2 linked regions of the Homo sapiens genome follow. The protein of the gene in region 1 purifies or fractionates together with the protein of each later gene. This does not show direct contact. Each region holds a gene or a part of one and is shown on either strand. Other genes may lie near its edges.

Region 1 (3,751 bases):
AGAATGAACTCTTGACTTTCAAACAAAAATTAGCAAAGATTTCCTTTCAGAACGAAAAAGACAAGGACACTGATAACCTCAGGTTACACAGGTAAGTTTAATTTTATACAAAAGAAAGATATATACACATTTCTTAGGACATGCAAATTATTAATGTGCTATTACCATATACTGTCTTTTTTAAATTTTAACAAGAGAGTGGCTGAACATTAACATATTCAGTTATCTTAAAGCCACAATGTTTAATAAATCCATCATCAGCTTCAAAGCATTTATTTGTGTTATTAATGTCTAAAAGGTATATCCTATTCACTGGGACATTCTGAAAAGAAAAATAAAGACCGGGGGGAAATACACTAAGTGTTAATAATTATCTGTGTGTGGTAAAATCAAGAATGACCTTAGTGGCCTTAATATTTAATTTTCCACAGTCACAAAAAAAGAAACTTACTTAAAATTGAAAACAACTTTGCTAAAGAATATAATATAGGTACGTCACGTAAGGCCTTCTTTTAGAAAAGCCATGAAATGACCTATAACATTGTCCTATTTATAACACTTACCTCATAACCAAAAATCATTTTAACTTTGAAGACTTTATTTCCTCCTTTACAATTAAATATTCAAAAGGTTTAGTCTTAATTTTTAAAAAGCAAGTTTTCCAGCATACTCCACATAAAAACTGTGAACGTATAAGCATTTGGGTTTTTCGAGGATACTTTGATATAAGGAAAACCTGAAATTAAGATCTATTGTGACACAGGTTCAGTATTGCATATTACAAGGAACTATTCCTGATATTAACAACCTCAGAAGCAATCTAAAATTTCAGAAAACTAATATATATTAAAAGCTAATAAAGAGGGAATAGTGGTGATAGACATGTTAGTTAGCTTGATTTACCCATTTCACAATATATACATATACAAAAATAACATGTACACGGTAAATATATGTAATTTTTTTTTGTCATCTATACCTCAATAAAAACATATATTTTTTTAAATTTGTTGAGACAGGGTCTCCTCTGTCACCCAGGCTGGAGCGCAATGGCGCAATCTCAGCTCATTGCAGCCTTGATCTCCGGAGCTCAGTGATCCTCTCACCTCAGCCACCTAAGCAGCTAAGACTATAGGTGTGTGCTAACATGACTCACTAATTTTTGTATTTTTGGCATAGAGACAGGGTTTTGCCACGTTGCCCAGGCTTGTCTTGAACTCCTGGGCTCAAACAATCCTCCCATCTAGGCCTCCCAACGTGCTGGGATTACAGGCATGAGCCACTGTACCCGGCCATAAAAATAAATATTTTTTTAAAAGTTTAGAAGAAGAAATAGCAGACCCTTGTTTGCCTACCCACCATCCACTCCTTTCTTTCATCTTTCCAACAGAATATCCATTTTATTCCCGTTTTCACTCTCATCTTCAGCTCCAATCCAAAGTTGGATGTTGATTAGGGTAAGAATATTGGTCTTGGGTGGGTCTAACCAGAATGAAGGGAAAGACACAGTCCAGGACTGCAGAAACAGATGGTTGTCTCTTTCTGAATTGAACTGATTACCAAAGGAGAAAAACAGCCTTTGGATAATAGTAATTTTGTGATGAGTAAAGCAGAGAAAGAGAAAGAAATTGGATCTACAATAAAGTCATTGATTTGCTGAATCAAATACTTTTGGAATCGGTCTACTACTCTGCACTTCCTATAATGTACCTAACATAGTTCTTTCCAAGCACTTGAGTCAGGCTACATAAAACCCAATTTATGCAGACAAACGCATTATAACTAATATGGAAGGAAACCAAATCGTATGGAATTTTCTTCTTAACAAAAAGCTGAAATGCCGTGTGTTAGTATGTGTTAACACCCTCATACTCAGGAGTGTTGATAATTCTATCTTGATCACAGACATAAGTTTAATTATCCCATCTGCCACAACGTCTTAATAGTCACTAAAAAAAGACATGAGTGAACATGGATGGATCTTTTTAAGGGATATTTTTAAAAGAAAAAAGAAGTTATCTATACTTTCAACACTTTGTATTTTTATGTTAAGATTTAAAAAAAAAAAAAAAAACGAGAAAGAAGAATCTTAGAGTTCCTCCTAAGGCTTGCATTTGGTTAACAGTTTAATTAAATACAGTTTATTAAAAAAATTGAGGCAACTCATATAGGTTAATTTGAAATTTTTCCTGCTTGCACTTAATATGTGTGTGGTGTGTACACACACATGCATACATACACACAGTATTTTATATCTGAAGAAACAACTAAGATAATTCACACAAAAGAAAGACATTTCCACTTTATAAAAGTAATTCACAGGCCAGGCATGGTGGCTCAGATCTGTCATCCCAGCACTTTGGGAAGCCAAAGCTGGAGGAGTGTTTGAGGCCAGGAGGTTAAGACCAGCCTGAGCAACATAGTGAGACCTTTTCTCTATAAAAAAAGAAAAATTTTTTAAAAGTAATTCACCAGAGGATACACTATGGAATCACAACCGAAGGGATTTTTTTGTTTGATAGCTATGTAAAAATATATTTAGTTTATAAAATATAAGTCTCATTAGTTATTTACAGTAATGCACAAATACTGTCAGGTAAGTATTAAAAGACTAAAGGTTACTGTTGTCAAGTCGCTGAAGCTAAGTATCAACTTAAAAAGACAAACCAAGCAAAACATTTGAATTTGTGCAGTCATAGACCAAGGATATAGAAGGCAAAAACGAAAAGGGATGCATTTTGAGTCCAGACTTGAATTTTTTTTTTTTTTTTTTTTTTTTTTTTTTTTTTTTTTGAGATGGAGTCTCACTCTGTCACCCAGGCTGGAATGCAGTGGCACGATCTCAGCTCACTGCATTCTCCACCTCCCCAGGTTCAAGCAATTCTCCTATCTCAGCCTCGAGCGAGTAGCTGCACTTATAGGCGTGCGCTACCATGCCTGGCTAATTTTTGTATTTTTAGTAGAGATGGGGTTTCACCATGTTGGCCACACTGGTCTTGAACTCTTGACCTCAGGTGATCCGCCTGCCTTGGCCTCCCAAAGTGCTGAGATTACAGGCATGAGCCATGGCACCCAGCCCACACTTGAATTCGTAATGTCTGACTCTAGCAGAATGAACCAAAACTTCTGTTTAGCAAAACAGGTGCGCAACTTCCTATTTCTCACATATAACAGCTTGGAGCCACAATCGAATCTAACAATCTATTACAGCATGAAATGGAAATGTGCACTGTTAAAGGGCAGAGATGAATATGTAAGTTGTTATATTTGAGGGAGATAAATGAGGAATGAAAATGAAGTGCAGTAGGATAAACTTGTTGGCAAATGGTTAAACATTTTTTAAACTGCTCAGTGTTAAACGATTACTGTTGGACTCAAACCTCAGCATCCTGCCAGTATATGGAATTGTTAGCTCAGTCACACCTCTAGATATTGTTTAATAAATTAAACTCAATATTTTTATTCATATTGGACATATACTTCTTAGAGACCCCTTAAAACAGAAACAGCTGAGTAACACATATGCCATCATTACTTTTATGCTAAAGGCAGAGATTCTTAAAACCTCTAGTTAGTGAAGGACTACATTTTAAGAGATAGAAGGAAACTCAGCAAGTTAACTAATCCCAACTCTATCCCAAGCTAGGAGATTCTAAATAAATGCATTTAGCAAAGAGTTAGAGAGTTTTCTATGTTCAAGACTCAGTGTTGACTGCTTAGAATGACAAAAATATACCTAAAATCTGATACG
Region 2 (3,751 bases), on another chromosome or scaffold:
TCTCAAAGTGCTGGGATTACAGGCGTAAGCCACCATGCCCGGCTTTCTGGTATTTATTTTCTCAAATATTTTACAGAGCGTAACAGACCAGCAATGTGATCAAGACAGAGTCGAGGGTTTTGGGGGTGAGAGTTTCTGGGAACTGCTGCGGGTTTCCAGGAGTCTGGGCTCTCCTCCTGGGCCCTGCATTTGCTCGGAGTTGCTAGTGGTCCCGGTAGACGTGTGGGACACCCACTGGTTTTAGAATAAAAACTCGAATGAGACATTGGACCATAATGGATGAAAAAGTCAAACTCTGTCAAATATTTGAAGAGATTTATTTTTGAGCTGAATATGAGTGACCATGGCTCGTGACATAGCCCTCAGGTGACCCTGAGGACATGTGCCCAAGGTGGAGGGCACAGCTTGGTTTTATACATTTTAGACATGAGACAGTAATCAAATACATTTAAGATATATGTTGATTTGGTCCACAAAGGCGGGACAACTTGAAGTGGGGGCTTCCAGGTCGGAGGTAGTTTAAAAAAATTGTGTTTTTTTGCCGGGCGCGGTGGCTCACGCCTGTAATCTCAGCACATTGAGAGGCCGAGGCAGGCGGACAACCTGAGGCCAGGAGTTCAAGACCAGCCTGGCCAACATGTCGAAACCCCGTCTCTACTAAAACTATAAAAATTAACCGGGTGTGATGGTGGGTGCCTGTAATCCCAGCTACTCAGGAGGCTGAGGCGGGAGAATCGCTTGAGCCCAAGTGGCAGAAGTTACAGTGAGCTGAGATTGTGCCACTGCACTCCAGCCTGGGTGACAGAGTCAGACCCTGTCTCAAAAAAAAAAAAAAAAACAATTGCACCACCACACCCAGCTAATTTTGGTATTTTTTAGAGAGACAGGGTTTCACCACGTTGCCCAGCTGGGCTCAGACCCCTCTACTCAAGCAGTCCGAACCCCTTGGCCTCCCAAAGTGCTGGGATTACAGGCGTGAGCCACCGCGCCTGGCCAGATTATGTTTCTTATCAGACTTAAAGTCAGTGTTGATGTTAAATGCTGGTGAGCTTTTCCTGAATTCCAGAAGGGAGGAGGCCACAATGAGGCCTGTCTGACTCCCCTCTTCCCATAATGGCCTGAACCAGTCTTTCAGATGAAATTTGGATGGCCCTGGCCTAGAAGAGGAAGTCCATTCAGATGGTTGGCAGGCCTTGGGATTTTAATTTTGGTTTACACAATTTTGAAATTATTTGCATATAAAATTATTAGGAAAATTATTTGAAATTATTTGGAAGAAAGATTGTTGCCTGAGTTGGTCTGTCCCTTTCTACTGTGACTGGACACAAAATATCAGTTGTATTTGGTGCAGAATTTTTCTGTGGAGTTGCTCCTGAGTGAGCATTATTGTGCAGCTCTGATACTGGCCTGGCCCAGGAGCTCGGACAACCAGAGTCCTCTCTGAGTAGACACTGGTGCGAATTTAGAAATGGGACTTAGCAGGCCGGGCACGGTGGCTCACACCTGTAATCCCAGCACTTTGGGAGGCTGAGGTGGGCGGATTACATGAGGTCAGGAGTTCAAGACCAACCTGGCCAACATGATGAAACTCATCTCTACTGAAAATATGAAAATTAGCCAGGTGTGGTGGCGTATGCCTGTAATCCCAGCTACTCGGGAGGCTGAGGCAGGAGAATCGCTTGAACCCGGGAGGCAGAGGTTGCCGTGAGCCAAGATCACACCACTGCGCTCCAGCCTGGGCGACAGAGTGAGACTTCGTCTTAAAAAAAAAAGAAAAGAAAGAAAAGTTTATATGAATATCCAGTCAAAACAAACAAGGAAGGTATTACCCTTGAAATGTTGTCTATACGAATTTCCAAGGAGACCACAGGACTGTAGACTGTCTTGGAATGTCCTCAGAGAGCTCTGTCATTGATCAGGTAACGGAATAAAAACCCCAGCGTCCTTTCTTTCAAATGGGAGAGGGAAAGACAAAGGGACAGAAGCCGTTCAAACTTTGTCTTCTTTCCTTGTGGCTTGTGGTCACCTCTGCCTCCCCAGAAGCTGCCTCGCCCACCAAAGCCTTCCTGGCTTCTGCCACCACCTCATCCTCCAAAGCTTCCTCTACCTCCATCACAACCCCAAAGCCACCTTCGCCCTTAGGTTTGGCCCAGTCCAAGTTACCTTTGTTTCCCTCAATTTCACCATCTTCCGCGGCCTCCTTGGCGCTTTTGGCATCCTCCTCACTGTTGCCATCTACAGAGCCAAAGCCTTTGGGGCACCCGGTTTCCTGGTTGGTGACTACCCTTGCCCAACAAAGCTGTCGAATGACTAAAGCCTCTTCAGTGGTGTCCTCAGACAGGCCTTTGACAGACAGTTTTAGATGGCTGGCTCCTGGCATCAGGTGGTCCTTGCAACTCCAGCCTGATTGCCCTGCCCCCAGTTTCCCTTTTATTACAGGAATTTAAAGCTGCTTTATCATCTTCAAATGAAGCGAACTGTAAGTGCATGCACACCCTTTAGATTTGCCATTTTGGTTCTGGGGCACTTTGATAAAAGTTGCCTTGTCTCAGATTCTTTCTGAAGAGTTTCTTCTGTTGCACTGTAGGAGAGGTTGCTTAAACCAGAGTTTTTGATTCACCCCTCCAAGTGGTCTCTCTAGTCTTGATTTAGACCTTTCTCTCCATGATAGTGCAGGGAAATAGATCGGCCATCCATCTCTGTTCCCTGCGTTTCTTCAGAAGTTTTCTCTGCATTAGCTTCTGTCTTAACCTCAATATAAGCAGTCCCTTTACTCTTCCCATCCTTGCTGACTAATCCAATCTCCACAGCATCTTCAAACACTTTTTTGTTTTTTGAGCCAGAGTCTCGCTCTGTTGCCCAGGCTGGAGTGCAGTGGCCGTGATCTCAGCTCACTGCAAGCTCCACCTCCCAAGTTTGCGCCATTTTCCTGCCTCAGCCTCCCGAGTAGCTGGGACTACAGGCACCCGTCACCACACCCAGCTAATTTTTTGTATTTTTAGTAGAGACAGGGTTTCACCGTGTTAGCCAGGATGGTCTTGATCTCCTGACCTCGTGATCTGCCTGCCTTGGCCTCCCAAAGTGCTGGGATTACAGGTGTGAGCCACTGCGCCACTGCGCCCAGCCAAAACACTTGTAATTCATCCTGAGTGACTTTGTAAGGGAGATTTGTAGCCAAAAGTATTCTCACATCTTGCTCTTTCTTACTGTCTTTTCCTTTTGGTTTCTCTAGTTTAATTTCATTGCCAAAGTCTTTCAAACCAGCGAGTTCCAAGGCTCTTTCCAGGTCTTCAGCAGCTTGAAAATCCACATAGTCAGATTTCCTTGTCATACCCATTCTGACATCCACAACAGCAAGATCATTTTTAGCAAAAATATCATGGATACTAGTTTTTGTTTTTCTTTCTTTTTCGAGACAGGGTCTTGCTCTGTTACCCAGGCTGGAGTGCAATGGTGCTCACTGCAGCTTCCACCTCCCGGGTTCAAGTGATTCTCCTGCCTCAGCCTCCCCAGTAGCTGGGACTACAGGCACGCACCACTACGCCCGGCTAATTTTTGTATTTTTAGTAGAGACAGGGTTTCATTATGTTGGCCAGGCTGGTCTCAAACTCCTGACCTTGTGATCTGTCCACCTCAGCCTCCCAAAGTGCTGGGATTACAGGCGTGAGCCACCAGGCCTGGCCCATGGATACTAGTTTTTAACTCAGGAGCAGACTTGTTAAAGTTCAGGTTTCCAACAAAGATTGAAAGA

Evidence for each region. The genes of interacting proteins can lie anywhere in the genome.
Region 2: the proteins of AP3S1 (region 1) and RABL6 purify together in Homo sapiens (affinity purification with mass spectrometry; 3 studies listed by BioGRID and IntAct, with this or other methods). This does not show direct contact.

Annotation. Positions count from the first base shown.
Region 1 is NC_000005.10:115,844,879-115,848,629, reverse strand, and holds part of AP3S1 (AP-3 complex subunit sigma-1), read right to left. Parts: intron 1-3,751. UniProt on the Homo sapiens protein: Part of the AP-3 complex, an adaptor-related complex which is not clathrin-associated. The complex is associated with the Golgi region as well as more peripheral structures.
Region 2 is NC_000009.12:136,810,797-136,814,547, forward strand, and holds part of RABL6 (rab-like protein 6), read left to right. Parts: intron 1-1,791; exon of another isoform or gene 1,792-2,830; intron 2,831-3,137; exon of another isoform or gene 3,138-3,379; intron 3,380-3,686; exon of another isoform or gene 3,687-3,751. UniProt on the Homo sapiens protein: May enhance cellular proliferation. May reduce growth inhibitory activity of CDKN2A.